Linked DNA regions of Homo sapiens. The protein of the gene in region 3 purifies or fractionates together with the protein of the main gene of each other region. This does not show direct contact. Each region holds a gene or a part of one and is shown on either strand. Other genes may lie near its edges.

The links.
Region 1: the proteins of EIF4G3 (region 3) and EIF3B purify together in Homo sapiens (affinity purification with mass spectrometry; 3 studies listed by BioGRID and IntAct, with this or other methods). This does not show direct contact.
Region 2: the proteins of EIF4G3 (region 3) and EIF4A1 purify together in Homo sapiens (co-immunoprecipitation; 7 studies listed by BioGRID and IntAct, with this or other methods). This does not show direct contact.

Annotation. Positions count from the first base shown.
Region 1 is NC_000007.14:2,369,762-2,380,965, reverse strand, and holds the end of EIF3B (eukaryotic translation initiation factor 3 subunit B), read right to left. Parts: intron 9,190-11,204; coding exon 9,117-9,189; intron 8,294-9,116; coding exon 8,171-8,293; intron 6,439-8,170; coding exon 6,360-6,438; intron 5,578-6,359; coding exon 5,439-5,577; intron 4,017-5,438; coding exon 3,891-4,016; intron 2,278-3,890; coding exon 2,200-2,277; intron 1,833-2,199; coding exon 1,724-1,832; intron 1,573-1,723; coding exon 1,469-1,572; 3' UTR 1,455-1,468; intron 786-1,454; exon of another isoform or gene 763-785; 3' UTR 221-762; downstream 1-220.
Region 2 is NC_000017.11:7,574,516-7,582,401, reverse strand, and holds the end of EIF4A1 (eukaryotic initiation factor 4A-I), read right to left. Parts: intron 7,857-7,886; coding exon 7,724-7,856; intron 7,690-7,723; exon of another isoform or gene 7,555-7,689; intron 7,284-7,554; coding exon 7,144-7,283; intron 5,879-7,143; coding exon 5,710-5,878; intron 5,592-5,709; exon of another isoform or gene 5,444-5,591; intron 5,347-5,443; coding exon 5,237-5,346; intron 5,059-5,236; coding exon 4,915-5,058; intron 4,834-4,914; coding exon 4,696-4,833; intron 4,576-4,695; coding exon 4,486-4,575; intron 4,448-4,485; exon of another isoform or gene 4,311-4,447; intron 4,238-4,310; coding exon 4,158-4,237; intron 4,061-4,157; coding exon 3,916-4,060; 3' UTR 3,396-3,915; downstream 1-3,395. Other genes in the region: CD68 (macrosialin isoform A precursor), read right to left, coding at 891-1,024, 1,336-1,506, 1,619-1,691, 1,817-1,936, 2,075-2,592, 2,676-2,724. UniProt on the Homo sapiens protein: ATP-dependent RNA helicase which is a subunit of the eIF4F complex involved in cap recognition and is required for mRNA binding to ribosome.
Region 3 is NC_000001.11:21,166,898-21,173,897, reverse strand, and holds part of EIF4G3 (eukaryotic translation initiation factor 4 gamma 3), read left to right. Parts: intron 1-5,858; exon of another isoform or gene 5,859-5,937; intron 5,938-7,000. UniProt on the Homo sapiens protein: Component of the protein complex eIF4F, which is involved in the recognition of the mRNA cap, ATP-dependent unwinding of 5'-terminal secondary structure and recruitment of mRNA to the ribosome. Functional homolog of EIF4G1.

The DNA.
Region 1 (11,204 bases), on a different chromosome or scaffold from region 3:
GGGAAAATGACCAGCATCTTTCACAGAAAACAACGCAACAGAAGAGACTGTGGCATGACTAGTGCATCGCTGGACACAGGGTGGCCGAGTGTGCGTGACGACCGGACGGGACAGCGCCCTGCAGAGGTCTGGCTTGGCAAGCAGGCCCTTGCCACTGGGGAGGGAGGCAGGCACCAAGTTCAAGGTCTCTATCTACATTCAAAGAGAGGAGAAAGACCGGTTTTTCATACAAGTTTGCTTTTATTTCCATGTTCAACCTGCGGAGAAAACCGGCCACAACCTGCACGGTGGGGGTACAAGGCATGGCGGCGCCCTCCCGGTGGGTCTCCGGGACACGTCCAGCACTGCCCGCAATGGGGATGCAAGTCCTTCAACGGAAATGCTGCTCGGCTGTGTACAGGCACCGTGGAAACATCACTGGGCGCAGGAGAAGGTGCCGCCAGTGGCGTCGCTAAGTCTTCGGAGCCAACGCCGGCGGTTCCAACAGAAAACTCCAAACAAGAAAGAAGTGGAAGCGGGTGCCTTAAATCCCCCACTGCAGACACCAGGGGCTGAAAGGCACAAAAATGTGTCGCAATGGCAGAATCCAGGCGCAGTCACAGTCCAGAGCCAGAGAGCACAGGGAGGAGGCGGGAGTCACGCGGCTTCCTGCAGGACGGCCTCGGCTCCACAGCACACACGGCTGCGCTGCAACAGAGGAACCGCGGCTCACACTCGGGAGTCCTGTAGCTCAGCGCGGGAACAGCAGGCGGAGTCCGTCCCCTGGATAGACAGGCATGGCGGCCCTAAACGGCACCACCTCAAAAGGCTGAGGGACCCCCTGAACATCGCCTTGGGGCTGACGTTGAGTCCCGCAAGAGGAGCCACCCCGGCCACAGAGAGCTGAGCCCGTGTGCCACCCCTACTCGCTCATGGTCCCACCCTGGGGGGACAGCAACCAGGCCACCCTCAGGCACCCCATTAGGCCTTCTGTCCCACATGTGCCCATGCTGTGAGGCGCGGAGGCCCCCAGGACTCAGGAGCTCCCGCACTCTGCTCCCCAGCCCCCGACTTGGAAGGCTCTTGTCTCAGAACTGCTGAAACCACAGTCACAGCCGTGCACGCCAGTGTTTCTTTCCAGTGGACACACCGCGGCCGTCACTAGCACAGGTATCAGGAAATGGCCAGGCATGGCCACCCTCCTCTTCCTGGCACTTCCCAACACCTGGCCACAGCTCCTCCCTCACCCAGCACTGCCTGAAAGGCGCCATCTGCAATGTGGTCAGAGGGCGCAGTCGAGGCCACGTCGGCACCGACTCTACATTTCACACGAGGCTCAGCTAACCCTGGGCACATGACACTAGGGCTTCACCCTTCACCCCTGCCTTAAAGGAGGTGCTTCCTCAGTGACGGGGATAACTGAAGCAGCATGAGCAGCCAACAGGACCCCCATCGCGCCCCCTGCAGACGCTCACCACAGTGCTCCAGGTCACTCCTGATTCCCGAGGGGAATGATTTCTTCAGTGACGAAGAACTCAATGGTCTCCTCTTCCCAGTCGTCCACGTTGCTGTCCAGCTCGTCAGTGTCCACCCCTGAGGGGACAAAGGGCGCAGATCACCCATGGGGGCACATGCCTAGTGGCACCGCCGAGGCCAGTGGGAAGGAACGCAGGAGTCCGCGGGCACCAGGGCCCAGGGGCAGCGTAAGGGCCAGCTCCTGGGGACTGAGGGATCTCTAAGTTACCTCCTCGCAACTCCAGGCGCTCGTTTTTCTGCTCCATATAGAGCTCCTGGGCCATTTTCCGGTACTTCCGGAAATCTTCCATCATGGTGCGCCTTCTCTCCACCAATTCCTATGCATGAGGTTGGGGAAAGCACAGAACTGGTAAGACAAGTGCCTCCCCATCGCGAAGAGCCCACACCCAGGCGGACGGTGCCAGAAGGACAGCATACAGAGGCACTCAAGCAGGAATGGCTAGTCCATTCATTCTCACTTTTCCCCCAACGCTGCCCCCCACCCACAAGGCAGCAGTGAGGTCACCAACTCCAAGTCCCCGTGCCAACCCCAGTTCCCCAGTGCATCCCTCCTGGGGGGGAACAGAACCAGTGTCTTCGGAGCAGAGGCAACTCTGAGCACATACACAGCAGCTCCCCGCAGCCCCGCCTTTGCCATGATGGCGGATGTCACAGCACAGCCCTCATTTTGGGAATGAGGCTCACCTTTGAGGCTTTGGACTGACTCAAACGATCCTTCTGTTCAAAGATCTTAGAGTATTTCTTCAGATCCTTTTTAATTTGCTGAAACAAAAGACCCATCACTCAGGATTTAACATTCAAAGCAACAAGCACAAATGCAATCTTCAGAGTTGCCAACATGACATGACACCCAAAGCCATTCACAGAACACAGCTTCCCAGGAGCGCTCGCATGCTCCTTTCTCCATGACACCCAGGGTCATTCACACAACACAGCTTCCCAGCAGCACTCGCGCCTGCTCCTTCCTCCATGACACCCAGGGTCATTCACACAACACAGCTTCCCAGGAGCGCTCGCGCCTGCTCCTTCCTCCATGACACCCAGGGTCATTCACACAACACAGCATCCCAGGAGCGCTCGCCTGTTCCTTCCTCCATGACACCAAGGGTCATTCACACAACACAGCATCCCAGGAACGCTCGCCTGTTCCTTCCTCCATGACACCGAGGGTCATTCACACAACACAGCATCCCAGCAGTGCTCGCGCCTTCTCCTTCCTCGACACCCAGGGTCATTCACACAACACGGCTTCCCAGGAGCGCTCGCGCCTGCTCCTTCCTCCTTGACACCCAGGGTCATTCACAGAACACGGATTCCCAGGAGAGCTCGCGCCTGCTCCTTCCTCCATGACACCCAGGGTCATTCACAGAACACAGCATCCCAGGAGCGCTCGTGCCTGCTCCTTCCTCCATGACACCCAGGGTCATTCACAGAACACAGCATCCCAGGAGAGCTCGCGCCTGCTCCTTCCTCCATGACACCCAGGGTCATTCACAGAACACGGCATCCCAGCAGTGCTCGCGCCTTCTCCTTCCTCGACACCCAGGGTCATTCACACAACACGGCTTCCCAGGAGCGCTCGCGCCTGCTCCTTCCTCCTTGACACCCAGGGTCATTCACAGAACACGGATTCCCAGGAGAGCTCGCGCCTGCTCCTTCCTCCATGACACCCAGGGTCATTCACAGAACACAGCATCCCAGGAGCGCTCGCGCCTGCTCCTTCCTCCATGACACCCAGGGTCATTCACAGAACACAGCATCCCAGGAGCGCTCGCGCCTGCTCCTTCCTCCTTGACACCCAGGGTCATTCACAGAACACGGATTCCCAGGAGAGCTCGCGCCTGCTCCTTCCTCCATGACACCCAGGGTCATTCACAGAACACAGCATCCCAGGAGCGCTCGTGCCTGCTCCTTCCTCCTTGACACCCAGGGTCATTCACACAACACAGCATCCCAGGAGCGCTCGTGCCTGCTCCTTCCTCCATCTTTCACTTTGAGACGGACTTTCTCCCTGGGATTTAACCCTCCTCTTTGCTCTGACCTAAGACCAACGGCCTATTTTACCACAATAATGTAAATCCCAGACAAGCCGCTTCTAATCCCAGCAGGACTTTTTAATGGCCCTGGCATCTTTTTATCCACCCCTCGGGTTCATGCAAAACTTCCCTAAAGAAGCTGAAAGCCTCAAGTTACTATCCTAAAGCTGTTCTATTCCATTCAGTTCTCACTGTTCCTGCGTCTCTTCAAAGAATCCTTGCAAATGTCACGTTTTTATCCCCCAGTCACCACCCTAACAATAACAGAAAAAACTGACACCTTTTCAACGCCACAATTGCCTCCATGTGCCCTGCACCCGGGGGTGGGGGCATGCTGACCTTGATCTGTTCCTGGCTCAGGAGTGTGGGAGGCCGGGGCCGCCACAGCAGCTGGCAGAAGCGGTCCTTGTTGTTCTTCTGCAGGAGGCGTCCCTGGAAAGTCCACAGCCAGTACGCGTTGTCCACCTAGGCCAGGGCAGGGACACACCAGGACACAGAGGGGTCAGAGAGCCACAACCGTGACTATGTCACTTGCTGAACAAGGTCCTGGGTATCGGGGACACGTGTGAAGCAAACAAAGCTCTGCCTGTGCTGAGCTGACAGCAGGGTAGGTGGGCAGTCAATGCAAGACACCTCCATTATGCAACCGACCCGGAGTGCGGGGCACGGAGCAGCTGGAGCAGCGCTCATCACAGCACAGGCCTGCACATTCTGGCTGGCAATAAGAACCCCATGCTGGATGTAAGCTAACTGCCTCACTACTGCGCCGCTGAACCCCGTGCTGGATTTAAACTGGACTGAACCCTGTGCCAAACGTAAGCTAACTGCATAGCACTACTCACTGCTGAGCCCTGGGCCGGGTGTGAGCTGTGCGGAGCCCTGTGCTGGATGTAAGCTAACTGCATCACTACACGCCGCCTAGTTCCGCTCTCCTCATGGCAGGCCTCTCTCATGAAGGAGGGCGCCTTCACTGGCACTCAGCATAAACTCCTTGTTGCAGGCCGGCATTTTGGAAGCTAAGTGTTCATAACTCAAGGAGAGTGGTCAACAGCTTAAAAAGTCTTTTTTTTTTTTTTTTTTTTAATGGGGCTAGGGTTTCGCTATGTTGCTCAGGCTAGTCTCAAACTCCTGGGTTCAAGTGATTTTTCTACCTCTGCCTCCTGAAGTGCTGGGATTACAGGTGTGAGCCACTGTGCCTGGCCTAAAGTGATTTCAAGTGTCAAGGCAGGCCCCACCGCAGTGACATCTGAACATACCTGGACACAGGCTGTGATCAACATATCCTGATTCGAATGCGAAGATTTCTAACTCTAGACACTTGCAGTAACATTTGGGAAGTTGATATTCCTACAAATTCTGTATCTCATTAAACAAAATTACCCGCGTTTGGTTTCACAGGCTCTATTGGCATGGACTAGTTCAAGTATCAGTGCCTCCATCAATGTTTTTACAAGTCACTAAATACTGAAAGTCCTTGACAAACTTAACCAGCAGTTTTGGAATACGAGTTGTGGGTAACGCGGCAGCTGGACTCAACCACTGACCCCAAAACAGATCTTAATGTCTGCGGTTATGGAACTCTGTTCAGACTTCAAAGGAAACGACTCCTCTCTGCAGACATTCTCACTCCTTTTCAGGGGTCCCTGGGCCCAGGGTAAGACCCCCCACCTCCCCGCAACCATGAGCAGGGGCTGCTCCTGCACTCGGCGCCACCTCTTCTACAACCCAGAATCCTCCTCCTCCTGCCACTAACACCAGCCAAGGCTTCTGTTCAACACAGAGGCTTGGTGCCCCTTCCCTGAGGTCCCAGGACAGCACCAGAGTCAGCAGCTAGCCAGCACTCCCTGCTTCTATCCACAGTCAAAACTATGCCCCACAGGCCTGCACCTTATGGCTCCACCAGGACACAGAGGTGACGACGTAGCGCCCAGTAGGATCCCATTCGACGTCGGAAGCCATGTAGTGCTCTGCGATGTTCATGACCGTGCAGTCCGAAGTGTCCACAAACGCTAAGGCACCGTTCATACTGCAAAGACAGACAGGACCGTCAGGCTTCATGGAGACGCATACCTCCTGGCATCCCACTCCTGAGAGGTGCTGCGGCATGGGGTCCCCAGGGAGCCAGCCTCGGCGTTAACATGGAAACAAGCACAGCAACAGCCTCTGGTGGCCGCTGTGAGACTTACCAAATCACAGATGCAGAGTGTGCAGTGAGTATTACATATGACTGCCATCATATTATTTTTACTGGAAATGTTATCTGAGGCTAAGTAAGCCTCCAAAAATACAGTAGCAAGTGTGGACAATGAAGCAAGGGAGAGCAGCAACAAAAGGGTATTCTTTTAACTCAGAGCAGAAAGCTGGAAGCTTCTCCATGATTTCGACACACTGCTGGAACACAGCTGAGACCGACACCGTGACACCAACCACAAAGGTAAGGCAGCCTCACAGCTGTGTAACGAATACCCTTCCCACTAGAAGACAAGGGACTGACCCCCGGGGGGAGGTTACTGGATGGCTGGAAGGCACTTGTTTAACCACAGAGAACCACAACCCGCAGACAGGTCTGCCTGGTCACTTCACGAAAGCATCTGGGAGCGCTTATTTCACTCTGTGCGGGCTTGGCCTGAGTCCTGGAGTACCGTGGGTCTGCAGAGGTTCAATGAAGTCCTATCCACTGACACTGGGGCAACCCTTTCAGCGCACAATACTCTCTCTACCAAGAAGCCGGGTGCAGGCGCCTGAGGGGTCTCTGCCACAGCAGAGCGCTACTCACAGGGCGGACAGGCTCAGAGCGCAGACACCTACCTCCTCAGGCCCGCCAACACCACGAACTGTCCTTGGGGGCTCCAGAAGATGGTGTTCGCCTGCTGCTTGTCGAACATCTCTGAAAGGAAAGAGCGCGCCTGTCACGAGCTGCGAGGGCTTCCACAGTGCCGGGGCAGCCAAGGCTGGAGGACTTGGCCGTGCTCATGCTGCCCATGAGGGCAGAGCTGGTAATGCTGGACCACCTCGGAAAACAATTTTACAAAGTCCATCGCCAAGTACCCCCTAAGTCATGATCCATACTTTAAATGGGAAAAAAAAGAAGATGCGACAGGGGTATTTCAAAACAATACTATCTTATTTCCTGAGGTAACTGGACAAAGAATTCCCTTTACAGCAAATGTTCACTGCTGCAGGGACCCCAACAGAGAGATGTCAGAGACGTGTGACCCCAAAAGACCAAAGCCACTCTCCTAGCGACAAGGCGTCTTTGGATAAGCTGTATGCTTGTTGAAACTGACTACAGTCATCATCTTTGCAGGTACTAACTCTTACTTCCGGAATGGATCTCGGGCAGAGCCGCTGGAACAGTGAGAAGTGAAGGCCAGCTGGGGCTGGCTCAAGTCCCCCTCAGAGCATATGCTCCCTGCATCTCAAACAGAGCTGACAACCTGTGGCCTCTCTCCCCTCAGCCTGTGGTACATCCAAAAAAGAGGCATGGGGCAGGCTGACGTGGGGAGGAGGGGAGGAGATGTGGGAGGGCAGTGCACCCTGGCAGGGGCAGGGGTCTCAGACTTGCACAAGCGAAAACCCCAACAGCCACGGGCATGGGATGGAGCCCATGCGGTGGCCCCAGCGTCCATGCCAAACCTCAGGAGAGGCGTGTCACGCAGCATGTTTGGAAGGTACAAGGTGCCTCTGCTTGCCTATGTTTTATGACCTAGAAGACTTACACAAGTCTCTGGACAGTCTGCAATTGCCCATATGTTTCTATCAACCAGAATTAATGAAACAGCCAATCTTGTAATCCACTGCCAACTGAGGGCACCACGCACCCTGCCAAGCTCTAGCAAAGTGAAAACTAAACTCCTCACAGAATCATGCTGCGAAAGGTGCGGCCAGGAGATTCCAACCCCTTCCTGGTACAGAGCCAAACCCATGGCTCTGCAGGAGGGCAGCTGGCAGCCAGAGTCCTGTGTGAGGAACACAGCCCATCGCCACCTCCTGGCTACCACACACACACACCCCACGCCTATGAAGCAACAAGCAATGGCTCATTCAATCCCCGCGGGCACCGGGCTCTGTGCTGAGCAGAGACCCCAGGATGAAGTGAGGAGCTGAGGGCACAGGCAGCAGGTGCCGTGAGACAGGCGAGGGCCCACGCACCACTGTGAGGAGCGAGCCCCAGGTGGGTGCAGTGTGGCACCCCTGGAACCGGGTGCACGGGGGCAGAGTACAGCTGTGTGCAACAGCTCTGCGCACCCTGGTCAAAGGCACCTGACCCAGACTGGGGACTGGCAGGAGTATGTCCACAGGAAGTGACCCCAAGCCCAGGGACAGCAGCTACAGCCAGAAGAGAAAAAGCTTCACTTGAGATGATGGCAGAGAATGGAAGCCTTGGAAATACTCGCTTAAACGTGAGGGCTCAACGGGGCTCAGAGAGACACCCTGCAAGGAGGCGGCACCTCCAGGCCATCGCTCACTTCCATCAGCCGAGGCCACACCCCATTCATAGGCGAGTCCCGGCCTGCCCAGCAGTGGTCCTAGGCCAGTCAAATGCTCACTGTTGGGCAGCGACTGGGTCATCATCTGTGCTGACCTACTCAGAAGAGGAAAGGGACCAGGTTACTTACTGATGAGTTCAATCTTCCCGTTGTTTTTGACGTGGTAGAAAGACACAGATATCCGCGGAGCCTCTCCGTGCAGCACAGCAAACTTACTTCCATTTGGTTCCCAGGCAAAGGCTATGATGGTTTCTAAAATGCACAAAACAGACCCCTCCCTTTTTGGTCAATTCAGAACATAGTGCTCTTGATCAGTTAAAATGTTCACTATTCAACCACAGAGAAATATCCCCCGACGTGTAAAAGTTCATTAAAAGGACGGGAGAGCAAGCAACAGCAGGAAAGGTGCACATTCCTGGAGTTTCAGAGACAGCTGCTTCCACTTGTGTGGAGTGACCTACGTGAAACTGCTCCCTTCCTGAGAGCAGGACACCCACAGCAGGACCGCAGGAGCCCGACATTGTCAGCAGCTGTGGATGCCGCTTCCCTCGCACCCAGTGTGCACCTACAGTGGGATCCTGACCTCCGGTCTCCCTGCCTGGAAGGGCGGCCATGTTTCCCATTTTCTCACCTATTTTTAACCCTTCCTTCCTCCTTTTCTCCATGGCAAAACAAAAAGCCAAACAAGAACACAGGCTCAATCTCTTTTCTCTTTTTTTTAGACAGGGTCTTGCTCCGTCACCCAGGCTGGAGTGCAGGGGCGCAATCTCAGTTCACTGCAACCTCTGCTCCTGGGCTCAAGTGATCCTCCCGCTTCAGCGTCTCAAACAGCTGGGACTATCGGTGCGCACCACCACACCTGGCTAATTTTTTTTATTTGTTTTTTGTACAGAGAGGGTCTCACTATGTTGCCCAGGCTCTAAACACGTTCTGTGACCTGGAGATGACTATTCATGGTGAGGGCTCACAGTCCTGACTCAGCTGCTCAGACAACCCCTCGCATGGAAGTGTTAAAGCCAAGAGTAAAACAGCACGTAGGCCCCATTCGCCTCAAAGTGACTAAAATACAACTTGCCTTTCATCTCGACCACATCCACAGGTACCTGTTTCTCCCTCATTCGGAAAATTTCAAAATTTGTGACAACACCCTGTTTAAAAAAAAGGGGGAAGGGGTGACATTCTGGACAGTGAAAATATGAGAAAAGGTTTAAATCAAAGATCAACGTCACAATGAAAGATTCAGTGTGCATGCCTGGTTCACACACGAGCATGTGCAGTGATGAAAGCCACAGCCCTCAGGATGGAAGACGGTTCTAAGGCTGGAGAACTGCCGGCACCACGTCTACTGGAAGCCACTGGACATGCATGAAGTAACTCTGACCCAGATCCCACCTCCAGGAGCCGCCCTGCCCGCCACACTTGGGCACAAGCAGTCCCAGGGTCCACACTGCAGGCTGCAGGCCAGGGTCCTGAGGGCCCTAAAGGCACACCAATGGGGCTGGGTAAACCACTTCAGACAGTGGGGTGTCCTGTAGCCATAACCTTCAAGAAGTCCTGCCCTACTCGAGGAGTCTGAGGGAAAACTGCCCTGATGTCCATCAACAGAGGAAGGAGGCCAAGAAACGGGGTCCACCCAACAAGAGATTACTGCTGACACTCAGCACCGTGGACCAGCTGTGGGAACGCTGTGCTCCGTGAAGGAGGTCAAACACAGAAGGTGGCATAGTATCCGATTCCAGCTGTGTGTTCAGAATAGGGAAATCATAGACATTCGTGATGCCAGGAGCTGGGCGGAGAGGCTGCTAACAGGTATGTTGTTTCTTTGTAGGGTGACAAAAACATTTATTTATTTATTTATTTTTGAGACGGAGTCTCACTCTGTTGCCCAGGCTGGAGTGCAGTGGTGCAATCTCGGCTCACTGCAAGCTCCGCCTCCCGGGTTCACGCCATTCTCCTGCCTCAGCCTCCCGAGTAGCTGGGACTACAGGCACCCGCCACCACGCCTGGCTAATTTTTTGCATTTTTAGTAGAGACGGGGTTTCTACTAAACCCTCGATCTCCTGACCTTGTGATGCCCCGCCTCAGCCTCCCAAAGTGCTGGGATTACAGGCGTGAGCCACCGTGCCCGGCCTTTTTCCTATCTTTTAAAAATTATCTGTGGAGATGGGGTCTCACTGTGTTTCCCAGGCTGGTCTGAAACTCCTAGCCTCAAGCTATCCTCCCTCCCACCCCGGGGGAGCCACCGCACCCAGCCGATGAAAACGTTCTGAAATGAGTGGTGGTGGCTGCATAACTCTGAACACACGAAAAACCACTGAACCAGTTCACCACTCTAAAGGGGTGTTTTCAGGCATGTGAACTACATGTCAATTAAAGCTTTCTTAACATAAAAGAAAGAAGAATACTTCTATTAGAGGGAAAACTCAGGAATTTCTTTTTTTTTGTGAGACGCAGTCTGGCTCTGTCGCCAGGCTGGGGTGCAGTGGCGCAATCTCGCTCTGTTCACTGCAAGCTCTGCCTCCTGGGTTCAAGCGATTCTCCTGCCTCAGCCTCCCGAGTAGCTGGGACTACAGGAGCCTCCCACCACGCCCAGCTAATTATTGTACTTTTAGTAGAGATGGGGTTTCACACCACGTTGGCCAGAATGGTCTCAATCTCTTGACCTCATGATCCGCCCACCTCGGCCTCCCAAAGTGCTGGGATTACAGGCATGGGCCACTACACCCAGCCAACTCAGGCAATTTTTTGATAAAATAAATATTAAATGATCAACCACCAAAAATAAAAAAATAAAAAAATAAATCTTGAGTATACTACTCCTTGTGCTTAGAAAGAAAATAATATTCTCAGCCAGGCACGGTGGCTCACGCCTGTAATCCCAGCCCTTTGGGTGGCCAAGGCGGGCAGATCACCTAAGGTCAGGAGTTCAAGACCAGCCTGGCCAACATGGTGAAACCCTGTCTCTAATAAAAATACAAAAATTAGCCAAGCGTGGTGGTGGACGCCTATAGTCCCAGCTACTTGGGAAGCTGAGGCAGAAGAATCATTTGAAACCAGGAGGCAGAGACTGCAGTGAGCCGAAATCGCACTCCTGCACTACAGCCTGGTGACAGAGTGAGACTCCATCTCAAAAAAAAAAAAAAAAAAAAAAAAAAAAAATCCA
Region 2 (7,886 bases), on a different chromosome or scaffold from region 3:
ACAGCCCCCCACTCATTGCTTTGGCTGTCTGCTGCATTTGAAACTGTACGAGGGTCAGGAAGAAGGCTGCGGGGATGAATGGCTCTACCGGCTTGCCACGGATGGGGAACTGGAGCAGCCAGTGGCCCCAAGAGGAGGAAGGAAGGGAGGCACGGCAGACCCAACACCAGCTGTGCCAGGCTTTGGGGGGTGAACCCATGAGGCATCGTCACACACTGACATTTTCATCCCTCCTCAGCAGCTGCTTCCGGCTCCCTGAGACCCAGCCATGGAAGGCATAGAAAGGCATGTGACAAGAAACTCATGGCTTTTAATCCTGGCAGGACAAGGAAAACCCCGTCAAAGATTTGCATAAATTTTGCTGCTCTCCTGCTGGGGGGGGGGGGGGGGCAGTTCGTCACATTTAATAAAATTCTCTCCCTCCCTTCTCCCGACTGCATTATCTCATATTTATTTATTTGAGACAGTCTGGCTCTGTCGCCCAGGCTGGAGTGCAGTGGCGCGATCTTGGCTTAGTGGCGCGATGACGGCTCACTGCAACCTCCACCTCCTGGGTTCAAGCAGTTCTGCCTCAGCCTCCCAAGTAGCTGGGATTACAGGCCAGCTGGGATTACGCCGCCACACCTGGCTAATTGTATTTTTAGTAGAGACAGGGTTTCACCATGTTGGCCAGGCTGGTCTCAAACTCCTGACCTCCAGTGATCCACCTGCCTCAGCCTCCCAAAGTGCTGGGATTACAGGCATGAGCCGTCATGCCCGGCTTTCTTTTTGTTCTTCAAGAAAGGGAAGGAAAATAACATTGTCTTTGAGCCAGTTGCGTGTCGAGGAAATAAGGGTACCCCCCCACCACACCCCAACCCCCTCAGTGCCCTGGGGTTTGAAGCAAATGCTCAGAGGGCCTGGTAGGCGGATGGGCGTCTCCGGATGATGCAGAAAGCAATAAGCACCAGGGCGAGGAGGCCAAGAAGGATCAGGCCGATGATGAGAGGCAGCAAGATGGACCGGTCACTGGGGCAGGAGAAACCTGGCGGAAGGATAGGGCAGGTAGGTATTTGCAGTGACGTGCTGGTTGGGATAAAGGTGGGAGGAGGGAATGGGGGGATGCTGGGGAGTAGGAGATTGGTGAGGAGCTCACCGCAGTGACTCAGCAGTGATAAAAGGGGGAAACTGGCAGAGTCTTGTAGAGGATGGAAAGAAAGCTGCCCTGTAGCCATGACAAGCTGGGAGAGCGAGATTTGGGGGGTTAAGAAGAGAGATGAGTGGCTTATGGGCCTGGGGAAGGGGTTTTCAGTGCAGTGGGAGGATTCTAGGAGGGAAGGAGTAGGTAGGTCTTACTTTGCCCAAAGACCCCTGTGTGGGGCAGCTGAGCAGCCTGGAGCCTCAGGGAGAGCAGGTCGAGGTGGACAGCTGGTGAAAGAATGATGCTCGAGTTGCTGCAACTGAAGCTCTGCCCCAGGGGTGCTTGGAGATCTCGAAGGGATGCATTCTGAGCCGAGAATGTCCACTCTGGAGGAGTGAGGAAGGGTCAGATCCTATCCACCTCCCTGGCCCCAGCTTAGTCCTTTCAGGAACCCTGGCGTCTAGTGGTAGCAATGAGAAAGGGAAGGAGGTTACTTACGTGCTGCGTGGGGGAAGGACACATTGTACTCCACCGCCATGTAGCTCAGGTAGACAACCTTCTGCTGGAGGTCCTGTGGGGCGAAGAGGAAGGCGCAGGTGGTATCCCTCTCCACAGAGGAAGGAGTAGCGTGTGGGATTGGGAGGGGAGGGGCGCCGGGAGGCTGAGTGAGGGGTGAGACTGAGGTCATGGCTATACCTGCATGAATCCAAAGCTGAGGTGTCCATAGGGGAATGAGAGAAGCAGGTGGGGATGGGCACCCTCACAGCTTCCCTGGACCTTGGTTTTGTTGGGGTTCAGTACAGAGATGCCCCAGGCCTGCGGAAGTTAAAGACTGGAAGGTCACAAGACTGCATGCGATGCCGGCCAAGGTTCCCTGTCCCCTCTTCCTTCTTCCCTCTGAGCCTATATCCAGTCCTGCCTCCCTCCCCTCTCATCCCCCAGTTTTAGCTTTACCTCTCCTCCACCCTGGGTTGTGTACATGACTCGAATCTGAATCTGGGCTTGGAGGTGGACACAGGGCTGGGAACCATTGGTCCACGTGTAGTCTCCAATGGTCTCCTTGGAGGTTGGGCTAGGACTCGGAGAGGGTGGAGGTGGTTCTGGGTGGGCAGAACTGGTGAATCCTGGGCTGGTGGCAGTGCTGTTGCTTGTTGGATGAACCGTGGCATTTCCATGACTAGTGGTGGCAGGACTGTGAGTGGCAGTTGAGGGTCCCTGGCTGGTGGCAGTGCTATTGCTTGTTGGATGAACTGTGACGTTTCCATGGCTGGTGGTGGTGGGGTTGTGAGTGGCAGTCGTGGGTCCGTGGCTGGTGGTGCCTGTGGTGGTTGTCCTGTGAGTGGTGGTTTTGTGGCTCTTGGTAGTCCTGTGGCTGGTTGTTCCAGTGCTCTCTGTAACCGTGGGTGTCACCGTGAAGGATGGCAGCAAAGTAGCTGATTTTTTGTGAGGACAGTCATTCCCTGTCCCCTGGGCTTTTGGCAGAGAGGAGATGGTTAGCAACCCAGGGCAGGCTCCCTCCCAGGGGCCCCCTCCCCTCAGCCTCCTTCCTCCTTACCTGCCAGTAGCCCCAGCAGGGCCCCCGAGAAAAGCACAGCCAGCCTCATGGCTGAACCGCCTCACCCAAAGTCCAGCTAGGCTGTCTGCACCAGTTGCTCAACCCTGCTCCCTCAGCCCTCTCTTGGAAAGGAGGAAATGAAAGTCTCACTTCCTGTACTGGAGATGATCCCACCCACAGCCTGACTCAGGGGCCTCAGCTCTAGCCACCTCTCTCTTAGTCATTAGTTTTTGTAATTAAGTTAGGGGACTGTTGGCCCTGCTTCATCAGGGCAAAGTCAACAGTGTCACATGGGTGCAAACGGAGTCCTAGGGCAGTTGATCCACAGGGATCCATGTGTCAAACTCAGCGAAACTTGCTTGGCAGTTGTGGCAAGTAGCTATGGGAACAGCTGAGGTACAGGCCCCTCCCTTGGTGGGGAAATCGGTTTCCACTCCTTTCCCCTGGACCTCTGGGCTGACCCCTGTACTACTTCCTCTTGGCTGAGGCATGTGAGGGGCTTGTGACCATCCACACCCAGCCCTTTACAGAGGGGCAGCACTCCAGTCAGCATTGTCATTCACAGAGCCGAGAACATGGCTTTCCAGCGTCTGAGAACTCAGATGGTGACAAGAAAGCAACAGCCCAAAGGTAACCATCTGCTGGGGAAGGGGGGAGCAGAGATGCACCCAGTAGCAGGTGGGAGAGGGAAGGGGAGGTAAGAAATGAGAAGCCCAAACAGGCAGTTTCCAAGTCATTTTATTCAGAATTTTGTGTTTGTTTCCTGAATCAATAAATACTATACAAAACAATGTAAAAATGGCTACCATTTTCTCTCCCCTGCTTCCCCCCACCTGGGGACAACCCCCTGGGCAACCTCACTTAGGGGTTTTAGGGGTTCTCCCTCCAGATTTGGTCCAGCAAATGAGGCTGAGTGACATAGTCCCTTGAATCACTTTCAAAGGAGCTCAGCTGAGGTGAGGAGAGCCTCTGGGATCTGGAGGTTACTAGGTTAGGGAAATGGATTAGTGTTTTTTTTTTTTTTTTGGGAGAAGAGCCGGCGCCTGGGGCAAGAGCCTACCCCAAAGAAAAGGGTGTCTAAAATGTTCACGGTTCCTTCTTTTGCCTCAAAAAGTGACATTTATTCAAAGAAAAAAAATGACAAGATGTCCATCCCTTGGCTCCCTTCCCTCCCCCCTCCTGCTGCTCCTCAGCCCCCAGAGATTGAGCCCTGGCTGGGGCTGGGTGGCAGGACAGCCCCTCAGATGAGGTCAGCAACATTGAGGGGCATTTCCTCAATGGAGGTGTTGTAGAAGGTCTCAATGTCTCGAAGAGTCCTCTTGTCTTCTTCTGTCACCATGTTAATAGCCACACCTTTACGGCCAAACCGTCCACCTCGACCGATTCTGGAAAACAAGGAAGGGGATGAGGAATATCAGGAGCTTTAAGCCCAGGGAGGGCCAGGTGTGAAGGGGTAGGGGAGTGTTCCAGATCTACGCTTACCTGTGGATATAGTTTTCCCTGTTGGTGGGAAGGTCATAGTTGATGACTAAAGAAACCTGCTGCACATCAATGCCTCTGGCCTACGTCAAGAAAGACAACTCTTCAGCATGTGCACGGAGGACACTCTATCCCGGAGGGAAGACACTTAGGCATCCATGTGGGCAGCCAAGGAAGGCAGAGGAAATAAGCATCCCAGTTCCCCAAAGGCCTTAGGCATGCCAGATTCTATTCCAAGCTGCTACTTTCCTGAGAGGCACTGATGTCCCCTTGGAGAGGGAATCACCTTGGATCCTCCCTTCTGCCTTTGCTATCAGTTCCCTCTACTCACCAGCAGGTCAGTGGTAATCAAAACTCTGCTAGAGCCAGAACGAAACTCCCTCATAATCACGTCTCGTTCCTTTTGGTCCATATCTCCATGCTGGAAGAGAAAACAAATATGCAGCAGACCAGGTAGGCACCTGGGTTCCAGGAACCCTGGCTTCAAGTAGGACACTTCTGACGGGCAGACCCACAACAGGCTGGCAGCGGGCAAACACACCATGGCGGATACAGTGAAATCTCGAGCATGCATCTTCTCGGTGAGCCAGTCCACCTTCCTCCGGGTGTTGATGAAGATGACTGCCTGGGTGATGGTCAGGGTTTCATACAAGTCACATAGTGTGTCCAGCTTCCACTCCTGGAGGTTGGGGGACAAAAATCAGTCAGGGGCTATACCCAACAACTCACTACCAGGCCCGCCTCCTGCACTGGGCCCCACCTCTCGTTCCACGTTGATGTAGAACTGGCGGATACCCTCCAGGGTCAACTCTTCCTTCTTGACAAGAATCCGAATGGGGTCCCTCATGAACTTCTTGGTCACCTCAAGCACATCAGAAGGCATTGTGGCTGACAGCAAAACTACCTAGTGGAAAAAAAGGCCAGTCTTAGAGTGCTGGTTCCTTCCTGAGGCCTGCTCCCTTCCCTAGCCACACCTAAAACTGAAGCAGATGCATAAAAAGGCTCAAGAATCCAGTATATGGTTCCCCTGGCACTTACTATTTTTCAAGAATCATTAGCTATTCAAGCAAGACTGCCCTCACCTGGGTGTTGCTGTTGAGCTTTTGGAATATGTCATAGATCTGGTCCTTGAATCCACGGCTTAACATTTCGTCAGCTTCATCCAGTACAAACATCTTGATGTATTTGGGGGCTAGAGAAGAAAAAAAAAGCCAATATATAGCATATGATTAGGGAAATGTGGGAGAGATATATCCAACTTCGCTGATAAAAAACAGAGAGGAGCCAAGTAGTCTGCTCTCAGAGTACAAAGACTGATCCTTTGCCCAGGACCTTCCCGCCAGGCAGACAACAGCCCTGGGAAGTAGGACACTGCCAGGGCTGCACTGGCAGGGAAGCCAGAGGCTCAGATGACACGCATGGGCTCCATCACAGAGCAGCTCTTCCCCCAGAGAGAAACCAGCATCCTTGGGAATGACTCTGGCTTACGCTGAAAGACTGGAAAGCGTGCACAAGAGCAAAGTGACCCAGGGGATTGGAGAACCGAATTACTCACACAGGTATCTCCGGTTAAGCATATCAAACACACGGCCAGGGGTACCCACGATGATGTGGGGAGCTTCCATCTGCAGTTTCTGCACCTCAGCACGCACGTTGGTGCCCCCGATACAGGCGTGACAGGAGGCGCCCATGTAGTCTCCTAGTGCCATGACCACCTTCTGTATCTGAGCAGAGAGAGGCAGGTGCTCATATGTCAGTTACCACTGTGCCCGGCACCATTCTTAAATGTTTTTCATGTATTGATTCCTAACCAACAACTTTGGGGCATGCACTATTATTAAACTCACATTCAGCTGAGAAACAGGCAGAGGCTAAAATCCACTTAAGATCGTGCTGTCAATAGGTGGCAAAGACAGGATTTCAACTCAGTCTGGTTCCTGAGTGTACAGTGATTCACAATGAGGCCGCTCAGATAATTAATTCAGTTTCTTTACTCTAGATATTTAGAACCCTTAACCTTCTGAAAACTAATTTGACCAACTGCCTCATCACGCAGCAACCATTTTTTTTTTCTTTTTTTGAGACAGAGCTTTGCTCGTTGCCCAGGCTGGAGTGCAATGGCACAATCTCAGCTCACTGCAACCTCCACCTCCTGGGTTAAATTCTCCTGCCTGAGCTTCCCGAGTAGCTGGGATAAAAGGCACACGCCACCATGCCTGGCTAATTTTTGTATTTTTAGTAGAAGCGGGGTTTCACTATGTTGGCCAGGCTGGTCTCCAACTCCTGATCTCAAGAGATCTGCCTGCCTTGGCCTCCCAAAGTGTTGGGATTATACGAGTTGAGCCACCACACCCAGCCAGCAACCAGTTTTATAGAACAGGTGATGCATATCCATGTCCTATTGCACTCCTGCCATAGGACCCAAGCTACGAGGCATGTTCACTCTGAGAAAACTGAGAGCCAAGTGCCTTAGAATGGAGCTCTGCTGTAACTTCTTACATTATCCACACCCAGAATAATCACTGCCCCTGCCACAGAACATTTAAAAACATGCTCTGACATCAGTGTTGCAGCATGACCCAGGAAAAAGTCCAGCATTAGAATTGTGTGTGCCCCAGGCATGAAACAGCTCTGGCTATTAAGCAAGGGTGAAAAGGACTGTCCATCTGCTCTGACTACTGTAAGATCACCCCCACACCAAGGGATCTCTTAGCCCATAGTGAAGGTGCTTATTCAGAACACAGTCAAACTTGCCCAGCCAGCCAGGCTTCACCCAACAGCTTTCCCATTTGACTCAGGAAATGGGTGGAGGAAGCAATGGTTACGTTTGGGTAAGAAATAGCTTTTAATTAACCCAGCAGGTCTCGAGAGTGTTAGGGCACCCATGTCTTCCTCCCAAGGTGGTGATCAGAGAAGACTTCTCTGGTCCTTGGATTATACTCATCATCCCTAAATCAGCCCTGAAGGAGGGAATAGAAGCCACTCTTACCTGCTGAGCCAATTCTCGAGTGGGTGCTAGGACCAAGGCCTGGGTGGCTTTTAGATCTAATTCAATCTGCTGCAGAATCGATATGGCAAATGTGGCCGTTTTCCCAGTCCCAGATTGGGCTTGAGCAATCACATCATAACCTAAACAAATAAATTAGGAGTTGAATGTGGTAAAGAGCATACCCTTTGGGATATTCAAGTCCTAGGTTAATGAGGTCAATAAGCAACCAATGAACCAAGCATTTCATGGCTCACAAACTACCTTCCCAATCAACACAGTTACACAATGGGAACCAGATCAGAAACAAGGACCAGTTATTAACTCATCTAGTATTGCACACCAAGCTGGACTAGAAACATGGCTGTAGATGCAAATATAAGCTGGCTACAATACCACCTCTTTAAAGGAAACCTATGTGTCCAAGGCATGAACCAGGCATGGGCACGGATCAAAAGCCAAGCTGGGATGAACAAGGAGTTGCTTTGTCCCTGGCTGATATGAGATGGGCATCACCAACCAGATGCCACTCTACCCAGGTCAGGGACAGTCCACAATGTCTTCTGGGACTGAGAGGTCTCACCCTTGATACAAGGTAGAATGGCTCGCTGCTGGATGGCAGAGGGCTTCTCAAAACCATACGCGTAGATGCCACGGAGAAGGGACTCCGAGAGGTTCATGTCATCAAAGCTGTCAACAATCTCATTCCAGTTACTCTAGGGGATGCAAAGAAATTAAAGCTTGAG
Region 3 (7,000 bases):
TTTTCTACCCTGAGGGAGTATGGGAATTTGTATTTGACGCAAGTGGTCATTGTTCAATAAGTGGATAACATTTAAGCATCTTGGCAGGAGTGCATAGCTGGAGTTAGCACTGTTCATGGCTTGAATAGATCTCCAGACCCTCAAAGTATGTGGGTATAGTTGTGTTTGCATTGAATTAATAAGTTCAGACAGTTTTATTTATTTATTTTTGAGACAGAGTCTTGCTTTGTCGCCCAGGCTGGAGTGCAGTGGTGTAATCTCGGCTCACTGCAACCTACGCCGGCTGGATTCCAGCCATTCTCATGCCTCAGCCTCCTGAGTAGCTGGGATTACAGGCGTGTGCCACCAGGTCCAGGTAATTTTTTGTAAGGCGTGATCAGACTGGGTTTCACCATGTTGACCAGGCTGGTCTCGAACTCCTGGCTTCAGGTGATCCGCCTGCCTCAGCCTCCCAAAGTGCTGGGATTACAGGCATTGAGCCACCGCACCTGGCCCTGATCTGGTGAAACCTGGTCTCTACTAAAAGTACAAAAATTAGCCGGGCGTGGTGGCGCCTGCCTGTAATTTCAGCTACTCAGGAGGCCAAGGCAGGAGAATCGCTTGAACCCACGAGGCAGAAGTTGCAATGAGCCGAGACTGCACCACTGCGCTCCAGCCTGGGTTACAGAGTGAGACTCCACCTCAAAAAAAACAAAATCAAAGGTCTTCTAGAAAATGTTTGGAACCCACGTCTTTTTTTTTTTTTTTTTTTTTTTTTTTTGAGATTGAGTCTCGCTCTGTTGCCAGGCTGGAGTATAGTGGCATGATCTTGGCTCACTGCAACCTCCGCCTCTTGGGTTCAAACGATTCCCCTACCTCAGCCTCCTGAGTAGTTGGGACTACAGGTGTGCGCCACCATGCCTGGCTAATTTTTTGTATTTTAGTAGAGACGGGGTTTCACTGTGTTGGCCAGGATGGTCTTGATCTCCTGACCTTGTGATCCGCCTGCTTCTACCTCCCAAAGTGCTGGGATTACAGGCGTGAGCCACTGCACCCGGCCGAGAACCACATCTTAAGTCAATGGAGAGGATTCCTGTAATCCCAGCACTTTGGGAGGCCGAGGTGGGCAGATCATGAGATCAGGAGATCGAGACCATCCTGGCTAACACGGTGAAACCCCGTCTCTACTAAAAATACATAAAATTAGCCAGGCGTGGTGGCAGGCGCCTGTAGTCCCAGCTACTTGGTAGGCTGAGGCAGGAGAATGGCGTGAACCCGCGAGGCGGAGATTGCAGTGAGCCGAGATCGCTCTACTGCACTCCAACCTGGGTGACAGCGAGACTCCATCTCAATAAATAAATAAATAAATAAATAGGATTGCCACATTTTGCCATTTATATTGAGGCTTCAATAGATGTGGCAAGTTTATGAATTCATTAATTCAGCATCCACTGTGTGCTGCTACACTCAGTGCTAGATGTAGGATTGAAGAGCTAAGGTAGAAATCTTTGCCCTCAAAGAACTTGGTCCTTTTGGTTAGAGGTGGGTAAACAAAACGTCATGAGGCAAGTACAGTGATAACTGATAACTCTGCTGTGAGAGTAGTCTGGGGAAGGAGGAATTAAGGCTTTCTAAAAGAAGTTGACATCTCAGCTAAATTAGAAGAATGAGTAAGAATTAACCCAGGTTTACATAGCTTTCTCTTCTGCCGGCCTGCTTTTTCCAATTCCATTGCTGCTCCATAGAATTTTAATAAATGGATTTCAGTCACGTTTCAGGCTTTTTTTTTTTTTTTTTTTTGCTAGAGGAGGTACCAGAGAAAGTGACAGTCAAACACAAGCTAAAAATTCAAAGTATTTTCTGTATCATAATCTAAGGAATTAGTGTATGAGAAGGAGATACATACCTGATCTGATCTGTGGTGGGTCTTTTCCTGGTCTCCTTCCCAGTGCATCTCGTAATATCCTTGCCCTTTTAATACTAGACTTTGGCTTAGAAACAGTACTTGCTAGTCTTAAAATAGAAGTAGATTTACCTTGGTGTATTGAGAAGTGTACCTGATTTGGAGGCAAAAAATCTGGTTTTGAGTTTGGCTCTTTCATTGTAGTAGATATCTTATCTTAGACTAACCATGCAACTGCTTCAGGCATTGGTTATCCCTTCTCTGAAATGTAGGGTCTAGACTCATTTATTCAGTGACCTTCTTGAATTATAATTGCTTATGATTGTCTTTTGAGATTTGTGTTATTCTTGCAAGTGGAGAGGAGGGATTTACAGAAACCAGTTAATGTTTTCTTTGTCTGATGGTAAGTGACATGTTCTGTGGTGGCTTATTGATATTAGAAGATACTAACATGGGGCAGAGGCAGAGGCAAAGCAGCAGTTTGCTCATATAAGCTACTTCTGGTTTTTGGCTTGTTAATGTTAGATTCAGCCACAGAGACAGAAGCACCTCTCTAACTTCAGTGGTGAAGACTGTATAGTTAGTTGTGAGATAGTGGGAGACCATAAAATAAGGTTGCCATGGTCATTTGCTGGCTTGTTCTGGGTGATGATACAGTTAGTTCATTATGAGATATGAGGGAAAGTAAGTTCTGGAATAAACTCCCGTGGTGCTGTGGTGAGACACAATCTATTTTTACCTAAGGAATAATACTTTGAGCTAATATAATAGGAAAGTAACTAGTTCCTGATTATTAGCCACGCATATGACTTTAAGCAATGGATAAACTGCAGCTGAGACTTACACGGATGAGATATTGCAGGATCCCAAGCGACTTCTGAATTCTCAAATGGCTTCCAGTTCTTTGGCTTGCTGCCAACCAAAGGAATTTTTCAATCTCCTGTAGCTCAGCTGAAATTTGAGAAAGTTAAACTATTTTAAGTGCATTTGAAATTTGTTGGTTTTTACGACTTTTTTTTTTTTTAATTTATTTTTTTAGACAGGGACTTGCTCTGTCACCCAGGCTGGAGTGTGATCTTGGCTCACTGCAACCTCTGCTTCCTGGGTTCAAGTGATTCTCATGCCTCAGCCTCCCAAGTAGCTGGGATTACAGGTGTGTACCACCACACCTAGCTAATTTTTGTATTTTTAGTAGAGATGGATTTTGCCATGTTGGCCAGGCTGCTCTTGAACTCCTGACTTCAAATGATCCATCCACCTTGACCTCCCCAAGTGCTGGGATTACGGGTGTTAGCTACTATGCTCTACCATGATCTTTATTAACTAATAATTGTTTTGTACTTTTTTTTGAGACAGAGTCTCTGTCGCCCAGGCTGGAGTGCAGTGGCGCAGTCTCGGCTCACTGCATCCTCCACCTCCTGGGTTCAAGTGATTCTCCTGCCTTAGCTTCCTGAGTAGCTGGGATTACAGGTGCGCGCCATCACACCCATCTAATTTTTGTATGTGGGGTACAGGTGGGGTTTTACCATGTTGGCCAGGCTGTTCTCGAACTCCTGACCTCAAGTGATCCACCCATCTCAGCCTCCCAAAGTGCTGGGATTACAGGCATGAGCCACCACACCTGGCCTGTTGTGTACTTTTTTGAGCCCACTGTGTGCTGCCTGACTTTATAAGACATTGAATTTTGTTAATAGAATGTAAACTCCATGAAGGCAGAGATTTTTGTTTATTTTGTTCACTGTGGAATTGCTAGCACCTAGAATACTGCTTGACAGACAGTAGGCAGTCTGTAAATTTATTTGTTTGTTTGTTTGTTTGTTTGTTTATTTATTTATTTTTGAGATGGAGTTTCACTCTTGTCGCCCTGGCTGGAGTGCTAGTGGCACAATCTCAGTTCACTTCAACCTCCGCCTCCTGGATTCAAGTGATTCTCCTGCCTCAGCCTCTAGAGTAGCTGGGACTACAGGCGTGCACCACCACGCCTGGCTAATTTTTGTATTTTTAGTAGAGGCGGGGTTTCACCATGTTGGTCAAGATGTTCTCAATCTCCTGATCTTGTGATCCGCCTGCCTTGGCCTCCCAAAGTGCTGGGATTACAGGCTTGAGCCACCGTGCCTGGCCTGTAAATATTTATTAAATAAAAAGTGTGTTGGACTTTGGGAATCAATTTGAAGATAAGTTTTAGGATTAATATAGATGGCATCACAACTCACTTACAGCATTCAAAGCTGCCCTCAAATTATTTTGCAGGGATGTATAATTGAATTGAAAATAATTCTGTAATTTCCTTTCAGATGGAATAGCATTGACCCAGTTTACAAAGCCATCTGAAGTGCCTGAGTTGTATTTGAAGTACATATTGATACTGAGGATTAGGGTTGGTATGAAGGCCAAAGAGGAACAACATCTGTAGTCAAATATTATTATTAAAAACTTATGATTATAAGAGCAAGACATAATTAAATGAGAAATTTGGAAAAATATAGAAAAGTAAAAAATCACTCATAATCTTATTAGTGGAGACAACCCCTTTTATTTTATTTTATTTTATTTATTTATTTTTTTGGGGGGAGAGAGTGTTGCCCTGTTTCCCAGGCTGGAGTGCAGTGGCACAATCTTGGGTCACTGCAACCTCTGCCTCCCGGGTTCAAACAATTCTGCCTCAGCCTCCCAAGTAGCTGGGATTACAGGTGCATGCCATTATACGCAGCTAATTTTTGTATTTTGGGTAGAGGTGGGGTTTCACCATGTTGGCCAGGCTGGTCTCGAACTCTTGACTTCAGGTGATCTGCCCACCTCGGCCTCCCAAGGTGCTGGGATTACAGGTGTGAGCCACCGCGCCTTGCCACTTTTTTAAAGAGGTGGGGTCTTACTCTACCTCCCAGGGCATGGTCATGGCTCACTACAGCCTTGACCTCCTGGGCTCAAGCAATCCTCCCACCTCAGCCTCCCAAGGAGCTCGGACCACAGGTGTGTGCCACCACACCTAGCTAATTTTTTTGTAGAGATGGGGTTTTGCCATGTTACCCAGGCTGGTCTCGAACTCTTGGGCTCAAGCCACCTGCTCACCTTGGCCTCCCAAAGTTCTGGGATTACAGGCATGTGTCCCAGTGTGTAGCTGTGATAACCACTTTTAACATTTTGGTGTATTTCTGTCCTGATTTTTTTTTTTCTGTGGATTTTAATATTAGTGGTCATACATTTTTGTAACATAAAGTCAGATTATGTACCTAGTTTTGTATCTTGCTTAATTTGCTACCTAAGTATCTGCCATGAAAAGTACTTTTTTTGGCCAGGTGTGGTGGTTCATGCCTGTAATCCCAGTACTTTGGGAGGCTGGGGCAGGAGGATCACTTGAGTCTAGGAATTTGAGACCAGCCTGGGCAACATAGTGAGACCCCATCTCTAATAAAAATTAAAAAATAGTTTGCCAGGAGTGGCAGTGCATGCCTGTAGTCCCTGCTACTCAGGAGGCTGAGGCCGGAGGATTGCTTGAGCCCGGGAGGTCAAGGCTGTAGTGAGACCTGATTGTGTGATTGCACACCAGCCTGGGTGAAAGGGCAAGACTGTCCCCCAAAAATAAAAAGAGATACTTTTTTTTTTTAAAAAATTGAGACGGAGCCTCGCTCTGTCACCCAGGCTGGAGTGCAGTGGCACGATCTCAGCTCACTGCAACCTTGGCCTCCCGGGTCAAGCAATTCTCCTGCCTCAGCCTCCTGAGTAGCTGGGATTACAGGTGCCCTCCACCACGACCGGCTAATTTTTTGTATTTTTAGTAGAGACGGGGTTTCACCATGTTGGCCAGGCTGGTCTCAAACTCCTGACCTCAAGTGATCTGCCCACCTCAGCCTCCCAAAGTGTTGGGATTACAGGCGTGAGCCACCACACCCAGCCAAGAGATACTTCTTGAATAGTTTTATTCTGTATCTACTTGAAATATAAGTGAACTTTTTGTTTATTTGGAATGCTTTTCTTGGGAATATTTTTTCACCTTTGGCTTTTAGCTTAGAAGTTATGACTGCACATTACAAAGGGGAATGTTCAAACCTTTATCAGTAAGTCAAACATCTTTTGAGTTATTGTTCCTGTAATGTTTTGCATTATTTGCAAGATTAAAACTCAGTGTAACATCACAAGTTTTTTTCCCATACAATTATTTACATTTCTTTATTATCTCTTTAAGTTCATCTTTATATGTTCAAGTATACTAAGTTTTTAAAAAAGGCTGGGAGCCAGAGTCCTAATTTTTTTTTTCTTTGTGACGGAGTCTCACTCTGTTGCCCAGGCTGGATTGCAGTGTTGTGATCTTGGCTCATTGCAACCTCCACCTCCCGGGTTCAAGCGGTTCCCCTGCCTCAGCCTCCTGAGTAGCTGGGATTACAGGCACCCGGCACCACGCCTGGCTAATTTTTGTATTTTTAGTTGAGGCAGGGTTTCACCATATTGGCCTGGCTGGTCTTGAACTCCTGACCTTGGCCTTCCAAAGTACTGGGATTACAGACGTGAGCCACTGCACCTAGTGTATTTATATATTGGCCAGGCTGGTCTCGAACTCTTCATCTCAGGTGATCCATCTGCCTCAGCTTCCCAAAGTGCTGGGATTACAGGCGTGAGCCATCGCGTCTGGCATTTAGTTGGTTTTCAGGAAGTGTTAGTATCATGAGGAGTGATTGAAGGAAGGAGGAAAAGACCACAGGGATTCATGCGGGATGAGGGAAAGAGGATTGAAGTGTGGGAACAAACATAATTTTGGAATAAGGAGAGAAAATTAAGTGGGAATAGAAAATGAACACAGCCAGTTTTAAACCAGAATACTATTTTTACATTGAGAATGGAAAGGACTGAACCTTGAAGGTTAAATGAGATGATTCCTGACCTTTTTTCTAGGTCCTAGTAATTAGTATGTAAGAAATAGAACTTGGTCGGAGAACTTGGCCAGGTGCAGTGACTCATGGCCTGTAATCCCAGCACTTCAGGAGCCCAAGGTGGGTGGATTGCTTGAGTTCAGGAGTTTGAGACCATCCTGGATGACATGACAAAACCCCGTCTTTACAGAAAATACAAAAATTAGCCAGGCGCGGTTGCACGTGCCTGTAGTCCCAGCTACTTGGGAGGCTA